Homo sapiens: one gene and its partners. The protein of the gene in region 3 purifies or fractionates together with the protein of the main gene of each other region. This does not show direct contact. Each region holds a gene or a part of one and is shown on either strand. Other genes may lie near its edges. The genes, in order: STAU2, CCDC25, RPF1 and ZNF689.

Region 1 (4,284 bases), on a different chromosome or scaffold from region 3:
TCGAATTGTGCTCTTCCCCCAAATTCATATGTTGAAGTCCTAACCCCCAGTATCTCAGAATGGGGCCTTATAGAATGTGGCCTTATTTAAAAATAGGATTAGTACAGATGTAATTAGTTAAGATGAGGTCATACTGGAGTAGGGTAGGTCCCTGATCCAATATAACTGGTATCCTTATAAAAAGAGGAAACTGGAACACAGACCCACACAGGGAGAACGCCACGTGAAGATGGTGGTAGGGGCTGGAGTGATGCCGCAGCAGCCAAGGAACACCAAAGATTGCCAGCAAAGCACTCGAAGTGAGGAGAGGGGCCTGGGACAGATTCTCCCTCACAGCCTTCAGAAGGAACCAGCCCTGCCAGCACCTTGATCTTGAACTTCTAGCCTCCAGAACTGTGAGACAATACACTCCTGTTGATGAAGCCACTCAGTTGGTAGTACTTTACTACAGCAGCTCCAGCAAACTGTACAGGGACCTCATAGCTTCTCTTTAAGGATAGCAAAATCTCTCTCTCTCTCTCTCTTCTCTCTCTCTCCCTGTATTATTTTTTGTTATAAAAATAGTTTTTTGTTACAGAAAAGTCAGAATATATAGACAAGCAAAAAGAATGTAAAAAGTATCCACAATCCTGCTCACCATTCACATCTTGGCGCACGTCTTTCCATATCACTTGTTTTTTTTCTCTCTTTTTTTTTGAGATGGAGTCTTACTCTGTCACCCAGGCTGGAGTGCAGTGGTGTGATCTTGACTCACTGCAACCTCCACTTCCTGGGTTCAAGCAATTCTTGCACCTCAGCCTCCTGAGTAGTTGGGATTACAGGCATGAGCCACCACACCCAGCTAATGTTTGTACTTTTAGTAGAGACAGGGTTGCACCATGTTGGCCAGGCTGGTCTTGAACTCCTAGCCTCAAGTGATCCACCTGCCCCAGCCTCCCAAAGTATTGGGATTACAGGCATGCGCCTCTGCCCCCAGCCTCCATATCACTTAGTATCCTCTCCCCATGTCTACAAACTGTAGCCTGGATCATGTCTTAACACTGTAGGTAACCTGCTTTTTTTTTTTTCAATGATAAATAATAATTGTACACATTCATGGGGTGGGTAACAATGTTGCAATACACATAATGCATAGTGATCAGATCAAGGTAATTAGTACATCAATCATCTCAAACATTTATCATTTCTTTTTGTTGGGTTCATACAATATTCTCCTTCTAGCTGCTTGAAACTATAGAACATATTACTGTTAACTATAGTCTTTCTACAGTGGTATAGAGCAATAGAACTTATTCCTCATATCTAGCTATAATTTTGTATCCTTTAATAAATTTCTCCCTATCCCTCTCTTCCCCCTACCCTTCCCAACCTCTAATATCCTCTGTTCTACTTTTTACTTCTGTAAGATCAACCTTTTTAGCTTCCACACATGAGCAAGAACAAGTGGTGTTTAACTTTCTGTGCCCTGCTCATTTCACTTCACATTCGCCCAGTTTCATCCACATGGCCATAAATGACAGGATTTCATTCTTTTTTTACGGCCGAGTAGTATTCCATTGTATACATATACCATGGTTTTTTGTCCGTTCATCTGTTGTGTGCTCTTTTCATTGAATGTGTGCAGTATCAACAGAAACATTTCGGTAGCATCATTTCTCATGACTGCACAGTATCCTATCGATATCCTGTGTGATACCAACACTGCATCAAATTTCCTATTGGTTCAATCTTTATGCATCATCTCAATACTTTCCTTATGATAAATTCCTAAAATTGCATTTCTGAGCCAAAGATGATGTCCATTTTTAAAGATTTTTTTTTTTTTTTTTTTGAGACAGAGTTTTGCTCTTGTTGCCCAGGCTGGAGTGCAATGGCGTGAACTCGGCCCACCACAACCTCTGCCTCCCGGGTTCAAGCGATTCTCCTGCCTCAGCCTCCCGAGTAGCTGGGATTACAGGCATGCACCACCACGCCAGATTACTTTTGTGTTTTTAGTAGAGATGGGGTTTCTCCATGTTGGTCAGGCTGGTCTCGAACTCCCGACCTCAGGTGACCCGCCTGCCTCAGCCTCCCAAAGTGCTAGGATTACATGCGTGAGCCACTGTGCCCAGCCTTAAAGATGTTAATATGAGCTCTCTATCCACCCTTGGAGAGGTTGTGCCGGCAGCAGCAGTGGGAGGAGGGTGTTACTCTAGGTGCTTCTGGAATTACCTCTCAGAACCATTTTGTGGGTCAGAGAAGCAAACCAGTTTTGTCATCTTTTGGCCCCACCTTATTTTAATGTGTTCATCCTGGTTGTTGACCTTCTTCACTAGACTTGGCTTTGTCTGAAGTTTTGCTGTTTTCAAAAATTAAACTCACCCTCAAAAGACTGAGGTTTGGACAGTTCTCCCCACCCTCCCTGCAAGAAAGGAATTCACAGAGGAATTTGACTCTCAGGGAGCTTTGATTCAGTGACTCTGAGGTCCTTTTAAGTCCTGAAGTGCTAAGGCGGCTATGCTGAGGGCAGTGCATGTGCCCACAGCCTGTGTCCATCAACCGGGGCCCACTGTCCCACCTCACACATGCGCGTGGGGCGCTAAAGGCCAGGCTCACTCACTTGTAGGCTCCAAGGACCAATCCATGCCAGACCTTTTTCCAGATATTCCCATTTTCACGGAGTGGGCTCATGAACTTCAAGTTCTTTGTATATTCAACAGTTTTAACAAAAGACCAGTTACTTTTCTTCTGAGCCATTAAAATGTGAATTATTGGCATAAATTCTGAAATTTATGAATTTCTTCCAAAGTGGACAATTACATTTGAAATTTTATTATTTTTTGTAACATAATGATAAATTATTTAACATTTTCTGTGATGACAACACCTGAAATATACTCTCAGAGCAATATCAAAATGTGCAGTACTCAACTGTTAGCTATATTCACCACACTGTGCAGTAGATGTCCAAAAAAATCAAACTTATCCTTTTTATCTGACTGAGACTTTGTACCCTTTGACTATCATTTTCCCATTCCACCTACCCCCAGCCTCTGTACCCACCACTGTACTCTCTGCTTCTGGGAGTTCAATTGTTTTATATCTCACATATAAATGAGAACATGTGGGATTTGTCTATGTTTGGCATATTTCACTTAGCATAATGTTCTCCAATTCTATCCATGTTGTTGCAAATGACATAATTTCTTCCTTTTTAAAAGCTGAACATATTCCATTGTGTCTATATACCACATTTTCTTTTTCCATTCATCCATTAATGGACATTTAGGTTGATCCCACATCTTTGCTATTGTGAATACTGTTGCAATAAACATGAGGGTGCAGATATCTCTTGACACACAAATTTCAAACTTTTTAGGTAAATACCCAGATGTGACAGTGCTGGATCCCAAAAGCACCATCACAGAGGGCTACTGAGAGCCAGGAAATGGAACTGTGCAATGTGATACTGCTGAATGGGGTTCCTACGAGCTCTAGGGCTTCTCGGTCCTGTTTTATTCCTAGCAAGGGCAAAACAACAACTAAAAACAATTTTTAAAAATCTTTTAAAAAATCGTTTTTAGGCTACTTATAGCCTGTTTTCACTAGGTACACTGGGAATACTTGGTTCTTAGTGTGGCCTGAACACCAGAACCAAATGACCTGCTTCACCCAGTCCAGGACCCATGGCACCTGCTCTCTTCCATCTGAAGAGAACTGCATATATGAGACGAAGGCCAGGTCTCAGGGAGCAGCTTCAGCGTTTTAGCTCTTGCAAAATCTCCTGGACGATTTTATCAACATGCCAGGCAGGTCCCCCGTGCACTGTCAAAATGATCGTCATCCCTCCAAGAATGTCCTAGAGTCTGGAATGGCGGCGTGCTCTCTCACTTGATGCCACGAATGGATTTTCAGAATTCTTGCGTGGCTGCTCTCCTCCACAGGTATGCTTAAAAGCTTCCAAGGGGCAGTCCCTTATCTACCTGATCAGATAACTCAACCCACATCTCACTGATAACCCTGAATACAATAGCTTATAAGTATGAGAGGGATTTCTTTTCAATTTATAAGAGGCAGTGGTGACCGATTTATCTTAACCTATGTAAACAGTAATAGCTACCATTCGATGAGCATCACTCCGCCATTGTCATGGGACTGGCCCTTTACCTGCCATGACCTGAGTTGTTATCACAGCCTTGTGAGATAGTTCCTACCCATAAGGAAACAGAGGCTCAGAGAATTCAGTAACCTACTTAAGGTCACACAGCTAATAAGTGGCAGAGCAGAGATTTGAAACCAATCTAT
Region 2 (4,284 bases), on a different chromosome or scaffold from region 3:
GTATCACTTACACTTCTTCACTGCTGGTGGGAATGTAAACTAGTACAGCCACTATGGAAAACAGCAAGGAGATTTCTTAAAGAACTGAAGTAGAACTACCATTTGATCCAGCAATCCCACTACTGGGTATCTACCCAGAGGAAAAGAAGTCATTATTCAAAAAAGATACTTGCACACACATGTTTACAGTGGCACAATTCACAATTGCAAAATTGTGGAACAAACCCAAATGCCCATCAATCAACGAGTGGATAAAGAAACTGTGGTGTGTGTATACACACACTCACACACACACACACACACACACACACACAAAGGAATACTATGCAGCTATAAAAAGGAATATATTAACAGCATTTGCAGTGACCTGGATGAGACTGGAGACTATTATTCTAAGTGAAGTAACTCAGGAATGGAAAACCAAACATTGTATGTTATCACTGATATGTGGGAGCTAAGCTATGAGGATGCAAAGGCGTAAGAATGATACGATGGACTTTGGGGACTTAGGGGGAAGAGTGGGAGGGGGGTGAGGGATAAAAGACTACAAATATGGTGCAGTGTTTACTGCTTGGGTGACGGATGCACCAAAATCTCACAAATTACCTCTAAAGAACTTACTCATGTAGCCAAATACCATCTGTACCCCAATAACTTATGGAAACAAAACAAAACAAAACAAAACACAAACATCTGTATCCCTTAACAGAAGACGGTTACAAGGAGAATTAGTCTATTCTTTTAAAGTATGGAGAAAAACTAGGAAAACATTTTCACTGAAAGAGAGAATAAAAACACCCAGTGCAAAACTTCCTTGGAATCTTGAACTTGATTCATACTTGGAGCTCAGGAACAGGGGTTGCAAGCAACAGAGGGAGAGTTAGGGTAGAAAGATTAGCAATCTTTTGGGCTACAAATTCAATTTCCTAGTCTCGGGACTTTTAACATCTGTCACTGATCAGATGGTGTTTGTATATGTATGTATGTAGGTCGGTAGGTAGGTGTGTGTGTGTGTGTGTGTGTGTATTTGTTTATTTCTCAACTCTAGAATTATATACAAGCTTTAAAAATCCAAAATGATGAGAATAAAATGACTAAGGTCATGAAATAATATGGGGGCTAGATTTCTGGTGGAAAGTGCCTCTAAAACACAGAAAACTTCAATAAGCAAAATAACCACAACAATGGCATCTGAGTTGTGGTATGTTGAAGACTACTGTTTAGTGTTAAACTGTTCCAATAGTTTCAAGAAATCTAAAATTAGCTTCCAGAAAGGATTAAACACATCTCATCTTTTCATAATGATATTCTGGAAAAACAGCAACCAAAGACTATCTGGATAAGGTATGACTATTTACAAAGTAGGTCAAGGAAGACTTTCACATCGATGTGTCTTTGCTTCAATTCTAAGCAGCCCTGTGAAATAATATGTGTCCATTTTACTGATGATGAATACTCCCTCAGAGAGGTTAAATGACTTTATTAGGATCTAACCCAACCACTGTGACAACGTTCCCTTGCCCAAGGGATGTTTAATCCCCCCCACCTCAATTAGCACATGACAGTTAAGTCTCTAAACTTCAAATTCAAAGCTCTATTTAATTTAATAATGCTATTCTGGAATTTTTCAGGAATAAATTATAAAGAAACATCTCTGATTCATAAAGGAGCCTCGTACATTTAGTTCTTCATAGAGATGGGAATAAGAATGTTGTTCTTACAAATTTTTAGAAGAATATGTAGATATAAACAAGATGTAAAATCCTATTACTTCTAATTCATGCACTAAATCTGAGGTTTGACTAGATGACTTGTAAGGGATCTTAAATTCTGTTACAGTTGGCCCTTGATTTCTTTATCTGTGAATTCAACCAACCTCAGCTCAAAAATATTTAGAGGAAAAAAACAATTAAAAAAATACAATAAAAATAATATAAATTAAAAAAATACAGTATAACAACTATTTACATAGCATTTACACTAATTAGGTATTATAAGTAATCTAGAGATAAAGTATATGGAAGGATGTGCATATGTTATATGCAAATACTACTCCATTTTACACAAGGGACTCAAGCATCCTAGGATTTTGGTAGCTTCGGGGAGTCCTGGAACCAATCCCCCATGAATACTGAAGGATGACTATATTTTTAAACTATACTATAAAACATGCAAAATCCCAAATACATCCACCCAGTTTCCATTTTCTGCAGACTGCTCAATAGCAGCTAAATTGTGCTATCTCTAGACACTTCAAGATAAATTTTGGGAAAGACAGCCCTCAAGGACAATAATTCTCTGACATAGTTCCAATCAAATAATTAGACGCAATGTTAAGAAGATCCTTTCAGTACTATGTCATAGGTCACCATCTGTTTCTATCCCAGGTCCTAAGGAACATGAAAACAAACAATTTTGTCACTTAGGCTTCACTGAGTCACATAAGATCTTAGGGTAAGTTATTTTAATTGAAGGTGATAATTTTGTTCTCATTCAATTATAATATGGACTCTACAGTCACAGTGATAAAGAACACTAATAAATAAAGGCACTTTTGCATGCCTGCAACCAGAAAAGAGGGGAAATAAAGAATAAAGTCCTGTAAATATAAAATGAATAGACCTGTACGCCACAGTAGACAAGCTCTGACAATCTCTTTCCCTGAGATGACCTACTTAACAACACAAATGAGAAAGTCCACAGGGAAGGAGGTGCAGTGCCTAAAAGAATCCAGCCTGAGTGGTGTCCTGGTTGCCAAATCATGGTTAGCTATTTGCAACATGTAAGGCAATAATGGCCAGTAACACAATTATTAAAAACCCTTAGTGAATTATTTCAAGGCAAACATTCATGCAAACCACTTGAACATACCTGATTTGAAGACATATTTTCAACTTTCATTAGTGATGAATAGCTCCTAGAAGGAAAAAAACACACACACACATTTAAAATATGGTGATCCAGTCAACAAATATTTGATGAACATTTCCTGTGTATCCAGCACTGCTCAGGGGCTTTAGAAGAAACACAAGAGCTATTAGATATAATCTCTGCACTCAAGGAGATTGCAACATTCAAAGGATGAATATTTATAAACAATAAAAAAGATGTGCACAGCACTTTATAATTTACAAAGTGCTTTCTCCTACTTGTTTCATGTCACCACCTCCACAATAACTTGGCGAGACAGGTGGCATTATTCCTACTTTTCAGATGGGGAAATTCACCTACAGCCAAGATCTGATAAGATTCACAGCTGAGGTATACAGCTCAGATTGTAAACGCTACAGGAATTCAAAGGAGGAAACACATCAGTGTGGGCAGGAGCTGTCAGGGCACCCTTCACAGACAAGGCGGAACCCAAACCAAGCCAATCAAGTGGGCAGGATGAGTGAGGGGGCATTTCAGATCCAGAGAGTGGGATGAGCAAAGAGACAGAGATGGTATCTTTAATGACTTGCTGAATATCCAGCTAACTCAGGTAGGTTCTCAAATAAAGTAGTGGGAAATCAGGCTGGATGTGGTGCCCAATTATGTTGTCTTGATTGCACGACTGAACACAATGTGTTCCGCAAGAAGCCATAATACACAACTGAGTAAAGCCATAATGAGGTTCAATGGGCATTCATTAAATATCCATGTGCATAAGACCCTGTGCTAAGCCTGGGTAGAGGATCGGATGAGAAGAAAACAGAAAATGATGACTAACACAAAGCCTGGACCCACAGAACTTACTGGGAGGGGAAATAAGACTTATTCATCAATAACTATGGTGAAAAGCACTATTAAAAAATACACGGCTGGGGGCAGTGGCTCACGCCTGTAATCCCAGCACTGTGGGAGGCCAACGCGGGCAGATCACAAAGTCAGGGGTTCGAGAGCAGCCTGACCAATGTGGTGAAACCCCATCTCTACTAAAAATACAAAAATTAGCAAGCGTGGTGGCGTGCACCTGTAATCCCAGCTACTCAGGAGGCTGAGGCAGGAGAATCACTTGAACCTAGGAGGTGGAGGTTGCAGTGAGCTGAGATTGCACCACTGCACTCCAACATGGGCGACAGAGCAAGACTCCATCTCAAACGACAACAACAACAAATACACCAAGAGACAAAGGAAAGTGAGACTACATAATACCAATGTTTTGAAAAGAATAATCTGTAGCAAACAAGATTAGAGAGGTGGTTAAGACAAGAAGGTCCATTCACAATAACAGTATTTACCAGAGTATTTTAAGCCCATTGTACAAAATAAGAAAGCAGAGTCAGGATGGTTAAGTAAGTTGTT
Region 3 (4,284 bases):
CTGGGCAACAAAGCTGAGACTCATCTCAAAAAAAACAAAACAACAACAACAAAAAAGTTTTCATTTATGATTTAAGATGATGATCTCCAAACTTCTAAGAAAACTTATCAATAGTTCTCAAGAAACATGTAGTAGAGTCACATATAACACAGGCTTATAAGCAGATTGCTGCTGGGTCCCACCCCCTAAATTGCTGATCGAGTAGGTCTGTGGGCCAAAGAATTTTCATTCCTAATAGGTTCCTAGGTAATGGTGCTGGTCTCGCTTTGAGAACCACTAATGTTTATACTTCAGATGAGCCAAGGTTAATCACCAGACCCAGATATTGTATCTTTTTTTTTTTTTTTTTTAGTTCAAGGGTATATGTGCAGGATGTACAGGTTTGTTACATAGGTAAACGTGCTATAGTGGTTTGCTGCACAGATCATTTCATCACCTAGGTATTAAGCCCAGCATCCATTAGCTATTCCTGATGCTCTCTCTCCTCCCACCCTCTTATCCCATACTTTAAAAATGACTTAGTCTTTTTAAACAATAAGCACATACCTTATGGACCCATTCATACTCTCCATATTTAGAATCAAAGGTTCCTTTCTGAAGAGACCTTAATTTTAAGGTAAAACGTGGTCCAAGTTCCTGAATTCCCACTTTCTTTTCACTCCTGAATATGTATCTTCAAAGACAAAAAGAGTTAAATTAGTCTGAATGAGCTATTGTTTAACATTATGACAGGGTTCAAAAGATAATTCATTTTATCTTGTATGATACTTGCTACAATATGTTGGAAAATTAGTTCATGTTGAAAATATATTTCATAATTGAAATCAAAGTTCAATGAGTTTACCTTCCTCACCTGTGAAATCTGAAGAATATGTAATCCCGTTGATTGTGGAATGTGGCAACCTGCCTTCCGATAAATTGAGGATTATGAGGAAAGAGAGATGCAAACATACGTCCAATTGAATGACCCAGCCGTGTTGTAAAATTATTCAGAATTATTTCAGGTATGTGTTCTGTGGGGTCCTTGCCTCTTCTCTAGAAAAATAATGAAAAATAAATATCACAATGGGCTAAGCTAATTGGCAATACGTCCCAATGCAATTTCAAGTATCAAAATTTACATGACAAATTTGCAAAATGTATTTTTTAGTGACAAACTACCACAGATGGCTTATCAAACCCATGAAATAAGATGTATCTAAAATTATTTTAATATGCACTGAATGCAACAACAAAAAAATCCTATTAGAAAATCAACGTGCTTCATAGTAATGAAGACTATTGCCTGCCGGCTGTAACTTAACCACAGTCTCCCAAGAGAATTGATAGATTAAAAACTGCTCTAATCAGGAGAACAAATGCCATTATTAAAATAAATTAGAGCTATAAGATACAGCATCTATTGATCAAATAAATATTGTGAAGAGATCAATGCCAATCAAAGAAATGTATAAAACTTACCTTAATTTCTTTACGAAGACGAACACTGCTCATTTTAAAATGAGCAGTTGGGCCATTTGGCAAGTGACTCAAAATAAGTCCATCTGTTCATAAAAGTTAAGAAAAACACATTGAACTCTGTAATCTAAATCTAATTGTTTAAATAACTGGTCCTCTACATCCAAAGGCCCCTAAAATCTGTACCCAAGTGAATAGGCAGATGTACATATTCCTCTGAAGTGACATTTTCCTACCATATCAAAAGCTCAAAATCAGTCAAAATCTTTCAAGAATATAGACTAACCTAGAGTAGTCCTTTTTTTCTCTTTTTACAATATAATAGTTAATCACGCTCAATAGGGTATCTTAAGGTACCCTAAACTAAAGTAGGTGAAAAAAAGCTATTTAATTGACCACTACTCTTAGGAGTAAAATAGGATGTGATTCTATAATCATGTAACACTGCAAATAGAGTATGAGTTTACCTCCACGTTCTAAAGATGTATAACCCCAAAATGTCACTTTTATACATTTGTATGGTCACGATATGCTGTCAACTTTGAATAACATCCCATGAGACCAGACTCCTAAACTTTCCTCTATGAAATTAAGGTTATTAGTATTTTGCAAGAGATCACCCCTTACTTAGGATTACTGTACCCCAAATTATAATCAACAAACCAATTAATAGCCATTCACTGACTGTCATTTCCCATGAACTGAGAATTATGCTAGACATGCTAAACTACAAATGAAATGTGAGATCACCTACCTACAACCAGCAGGACTAGCAGCCCAAGGACTCTAGAAGTCCTGGGTGCTGCAAACTAAGGTTGCTACCTATATAATATTCTTCAAGTTTGTGGCACAATCTGACCTTCACTTGAAACACCTTTACTTTTCATGAGTAATTCTTGGCTATTGCTTAATGGCATTACAAGCAGGCATATTAATGACAATGGACAGGGCTTTCACTTTGTATTATGCTTTTCTAGTTTAGGAGAAATTTTCAAACACATTTCATCTGATTCAACAACTTAAATAGGCCAGAATCAGATGGTTTCAAGTCTATCTGCATTTAATATGTATCTTTCAAAGCAGATGTTGCCATCTTTTTACAATGGCATCAACACTCATTCCTCCAGATTAGAAGCTATGGTATCTTCAGCTTCTCCCTCTCCCACCAAATCTTAACTGCTTTTACCTTCAGAAGTTCTCACTTAGCATCCTCTTTACCCTTACTGTCTTAGTGAGGTCCTCAAGATTTTCCACCTAGATTATTAAGGTAGTATTGTGGTTGGTCTGACCTTTTTCTCACCATCTCAAGTACATCTCCTAATGCAGATTGTAAAATCAAGTCTGGACTTAGGCCTTGGTTCTATAAGTAACCAGCTATGGGACTCAGCTGTTTCATTATATCTGTACCATAGTTTCTCACATGCTAAGTGAAAAACAAACTAGATACCTTCACAGTCTTGACAGCTGTAGCTAATTTCATACTACTCTCATCACAGACTCATCTACAGAAAAAAGACATTAGTATCAGACTCATAATGTGGCCACAAATTACCTTTTCAACCTATTTACCCTATGCCCACATCAAGCCTGTTTCCTAACTGGTAGGTACTCACAGTCTTATGTACTATATATGTGAATCCTAGCATGCATTTTTTGCTTCTGCTATTTTGAATACCTGCAACGTTTTACTCATCTATTATGGTCTACTTCAAATGTCACCTTTTTATGTAGTCAGAATTAAGATCTAAATCTTCTCAGTTCTGCTACCACAGCACTCATCACTTTTTGAGTTAGGAAAACACCTTTCTTCCCAACTAATCTGTTAAAACTTAGGTAGGGATGGGAATTTTTTTCTTTTGTTTTTTTTTTTTGAGACGGTCTCACTCAGCAGCCCAGGCTGAAGTGCAATGGCACGACCATGGGTCACTGCAGCCTCAACCTCTCGGGCTCAAGCAATCCTCCCACCTCAACCTCCCAAGTAAATGGGACTACAGGCATCATGCCCAGCTAATTTTTGTAGAGAAAGGGTTTTGCCATGTTGCCCAGGCTGGTCTCAAGCGATCCACCTGCCTTAGCCTCCCAAAGTGCTGGGACTGCAGGCAGATCTTTTTTTTTTTTTTTTTTTTGATAGTAGTGCCTACCATGCATCAGATTATCAGCAAACGTTTGAATTCTATCATTTTAAAAGATTCACCACAGGCTAAACTTCATGAAATACAGCCAAAAGTATTTATTAAGGGGTCTAGGAGATATAAAAGTCATTTCTTCCAACGCCCAAATCAAGGCTTAAATCCTTTCTAGAACATTCCCACTAAATTGTGGTCTGTGTCAAAAGCCAAGTACAAAACCCAAACTTACCAGTTTCTAAATAACTTCTTTTCCCATGTACCTGCATTGTGCAAGAGGCTTTATTTACATTACTGCTAATCCCTAACACAAATCACATAAAACAGGAGTCATCATGCCTATTTCAGTAATGAGGAAAAGAGGCTGAAGAGGGTCAAGTAAATTAGCCTAAGTAAATCAGACTAAGGCAACTGCAGATCTCAACCACGGTGGGACTGCACCTAGCTTAAGCCCCCTGCTGACAGCTGCTCACATTTGGAAATGTACAGAGGCATTTTGTTTGTCAGTATGACTGAGGTGTTACTGGCATTTAGAATCCAAAGGCCAGGAATGCAAACCATCTTGGAAGCTGCCAAGAGTGTAGCACAAATAATTACCCTACCTCAAATAACAGTAGTTCCCCATTTAGAAATAATGAATAGAGGATGTAGGTCTGTACAGATAAAGTTTACATGCTTCTCACTATACCACGTTTACTAA
Region 4 (3,450 bases), on a different chromosome or scaffold from region 3:
ACCCAGTCACTGCTAGCTCATACCTCATAGGTTTCCATATCTTGCCTTACACTCTTTTGTGTGTGTGTGAGACGGAGTCTTGCTCTGTTGCCCAGGCAGGAGTGCAGTGGCACGATCTCAGCTCACTGTAACCTCTTGCTCCCGGTTTCAAGCAATTCTCCTGTCTCAGCCTCTGGAGTAGGTGGGACTACAGGTGCCCACGATCACACCCGGCTAATTTTTAGTAGAGACAGGGTTTCTCCATATTGGTCAAGCTGGTCTCGAACTCCTGACCTCAGGTGATCCGCCTGCCTTGGCCTTCCAAAGTGCTGGGATTGCAGGTGTAAGCCACCGCGCCCAGCCTGTCTTGCTTTTACACTTTGTGTCTAAGAAGATCTTAGGGCCTGTGCACACTGTACACTGAGCCTTGGGACTTATGTTTCTTTTCTTTTTTTTTTTTGAGACGGAGTTTTGCTCTTCCACCCAGGCTGGAGTGTAGTAGTGCAATCTTGGCTCACTGCAACCTTTGCCTTCCGGTTTCAAGTAATCATCTTGACTCAGTTTCCCAAGTAGCTGGGATTACAGGCGCCCGCCAGCATGCACGGCTAATTTTTGTATTTTTAGTAGAGACGGGGTTTCACCATGTTGGCCAGGCTGGTCTCGAACTCCTGACCTCACAGTCCGCCCACCTTGGCCTCCCAAAGTGCTGGGATTATAGGAATGAGCCACTGCGCTTGGCTGGGACTTACGTTTCTAACACTGCATAATTTTAATTCTTTTTTTTTTTTTTTTTTTTTTTTTTGAGATGGAGTCTCACTCTGTCATGCAGGCTGGAGTGCAATGGCGTGATCTTGGCTCACTGCAACCTCCGCCTCCCAGGATCAAGTGATTCTCCCACCTCAGCCTCTGGGTAGCTGGGATTATAGGCACCTGCTATTGTGCCCAGCTAATTTTTATATTTTTGTAGAGACGGGGTTTCACCATGTTGGCCAGGCTGGTCTTGAACTCCTGACCTCAGGTGATCCGCCTGCCTCAGCCTCCTAAAGTGCTAGGATTACAGACATGAGCCACCACGCCCAGCCACATTTTTTAAAGAATCAGCTAAGTCAAATAAACCATCCACAATGGAATTCTGTGTAGCTGTAAAATAGAAAAAAGATTTGCTGACATAAAATGATCTTTAGAATATATTAAGTGAAAAAATGTAAAGTGTGTATAAGGTGTGTATATGTTGTCTTTTGTATAAGAAAGGTGAGCTGGGCATGGTGGCTCACGCCTGTAGTCACTTTGGGAGATAGAGGTGAGCAGATAACCTGAGGTCAGGAGTTCGAGACCAACCTGGCCAACATGGTGAAACCCTGACTCTACTAAAAATACAAAAAATTAGCTGGGCATAGTGGTGCATGCCTGTAATCCCAGCTACTTAGGAGGCTGAGGCAGGGAGAATCACTTGAACCCGGGAGGCGGAGATTTCAGTGAACTGAGATCACACCATTGCACTCCAGCCTGGGTGACAGAGCGTGACTCTGTCTCAAAAAAGAAAAAAAAAAAGAAAGGTGGGGAAGAGAACATACGCTGTAAAGCATGTGTATGCAATCTCTTATGAAAGAAAGATAGGGAAGGTGACATTTGTATTGCATCAAAAAAATGGGAAAAAACTAATATGGTTTCTACAAGGTAGATTGGAAAAAGGTGGCAGCAAGACTTCTCTGTATTCCTTTATTAATATTTTGACTTGTTTGTTTTTTGAGATAGGGTCTTGCTGTGTTGCCCAGGCTGGAGTACAGTGGTGCCATCATGGTTCACAGTAGCCTTGAACTCCTGGGCTCAAGTAATCCTCTACCTCAGCCTTCCAAGTAGCTAGGACTACAGGCAGGCACGCGTGCCACCAGGCCAGGCTAATATTTGTATTTTTTGTAGAGATGGGGTCTCACTATGCTGCCCAGGCTGATCTTGAACTCCTGGGTTCAAGCGATCTCTTGCCTTGGGCTCCCAAAGTGCTGGGATTACAGGCATGAGCAACCATGCCTGGCTGATATTTTGACTTTTGAATGATGTAAGCTTACCTCTTCAAAAATATTCCTTTTTTTTTTTTTTTTGAGATGGAATCTCGCTCTCTCGCCCAGGTTGGAGTGCAGTGGCACAATCTCGGCTCACTGCAACCTCTGCCTCCCGGGCGATTCTCCTGCCTCAGCCTTCTGGGTAGCTGGGATTACAGGTGCGTGCCACCACGCCCGGCTAATTTTTGTATTTTTAGTAGAAACAGGGTTTCACCATGTTGGTCAGGCTGCTCTCAAACTCCTGACCTTGTGATCTGCCCGCCTCGGCCTCCCAGTGCTTACGATTACAAGCGTGATCCACTGTGCCCGGCCTCAATTTTTAAAGTTAGTTTAATCTCCGAGAAATCTTCCTAGACTTCTCCAAGCTGGGTTAGAAGCTCCTGTAATGCACACCGTATTTGCATGACAGTATGTCACACTTAGCTGTCTGTGGCACTAGGAATTGAGACCAGGGGGTGAGTCTATTGGTCTTGTAACCTATAATGTAATTGACAAGAGCAGGAGCCCAGTATTTGTTAAATTAATGCTTCTGTATTTCTATAGAAAGCAGAACCAGAAAGAAGAATGGGGAGAAGGAAGTATTCCCGCCTAAGGAGGCACCCCGAAAGGGGAAGCGAGGCCGGAGGCCCAGCAAACCCCGACTGATTCCTAGGCAGACGTCCGGGGGCCCCATCTGCCCTGACTGCGGCTGTACCTTCCCTGATCATCAGGCCCTGGAGAGCCACAAGTGCGCCCAGAATCTAAAAAAGCCTTACCCTTGCCCAGACTGTGGGCGCCGCTTTTCCTATCCATCCCTGCTGGTCAGTCACCGGCGGGCACACTCCGGCGAGTGCCCCTATGTTTGTGACCAGTGTGGCAAACGTTTCTCCCAGCGCAAGAACCTCTCCCAGCACCAGGTCATCCATACAGGGGAGAAGCCCTATCACTGCCCTGACTGTGGTCGCTGCTTCCGGAGGAGCCGGTCCTTGGCCAATCACCGGACCACACACACAGGTGAAAAACCCCACCAGTGCCCTAGCTGTGGACGTCGCTTCGCCTACCCCTCCCTGCTAGCCATCCACCAGCGTACACACACGGGAGAGAAGCCCTACACTTGCCTCGAGTGCAACCGCCGCTTCCGCCAGCGCACGGCCCTCGTCATCCACCAGCGCATCCACACGGGCGAGAAGCCCTACCCGTGCCCGGACTGCGAGCGGCGCTTCTCCTCCTCCTCTCGCCTGGTCAGTCACCGGCGTGTGCACTCTGGGGAGCGTCCCTATGCCTGCGAGCACTGTGAGGCCCGCTTCTCCCAGCGCAGCACGCTGCTCCAGCACCAGCTCTTGCACACCGGAGAGAAGCCCTACCCCTGCCCAGACTGTGGGCGTGCCTTCCGGCGGAGCGGCTCCCTGGCCATCCATCGCAGCACGCACAC

What was found.
Region 1: the proteins of RPF1 (region 3) and STAU2 purify together in Homo sapiens (affinity purification with mass spectrometry; one large-scale study listed by BioGRID and IntAct). This does not show direct contact.
Region 2: the proteins of RPF1 (region 3) and CCDC25 purify together in Homo sapiens (co-immunoprecipitation; one large-scale study listed by IntAct). This does not show direct contact.
Region 4: the proteins of RPF1 (region 3) and ZNF689 purify together in Homo sapiens (affinity purification with mass spectrometry; one large-scale study listed by BioGRID and IntAct). This does not show direct contact.

What each region holds. Positions count from the first base shown.
Region 1 is NC_000008.11:73,425,115-73,429,398, forward strand, and holds part of STAU2 (double-stranded RNA-binding protein Staufen homolog 2), read right to left. Parts: intron 1-4,284. UniProt on the Homo sapiens protein: RNA-binding protein required for the microtubule-dependent transport of neuronal RNA from the cell body to the dendrite.
Region 2 is NC_000008.11:27,737,601-27,741,884, forward strand, and holds part of CCDC25 (coiled-coil domain-containing protein 25), read right to left. Parts: intron 2,918-4,284; coding exon 2,872-2,917; intron 1-2,871.
Region 3 is NC_000001.11:84,492,633-84,496,916, reverse strand, and holds part of RPF1 (ribosome production factor 1), read right to left. Parts: intron 1,545-4,284; coding exon 1,462-1,544; intron 1,036-1,461; coding exon 854-1,035; intron 674-853; coding exon 547-673; intron 1-546.
Region 4 is NC_000016.10:30,604,580-30,608,029, reverse strand, and holds part of ZNF689 (zinc finger protein 689), read left to right. Parts: intron 1-2,582; coding exon 2,583-3,450. UniProt on the Homo sapiens protein: May be involved in transcriptional regulation.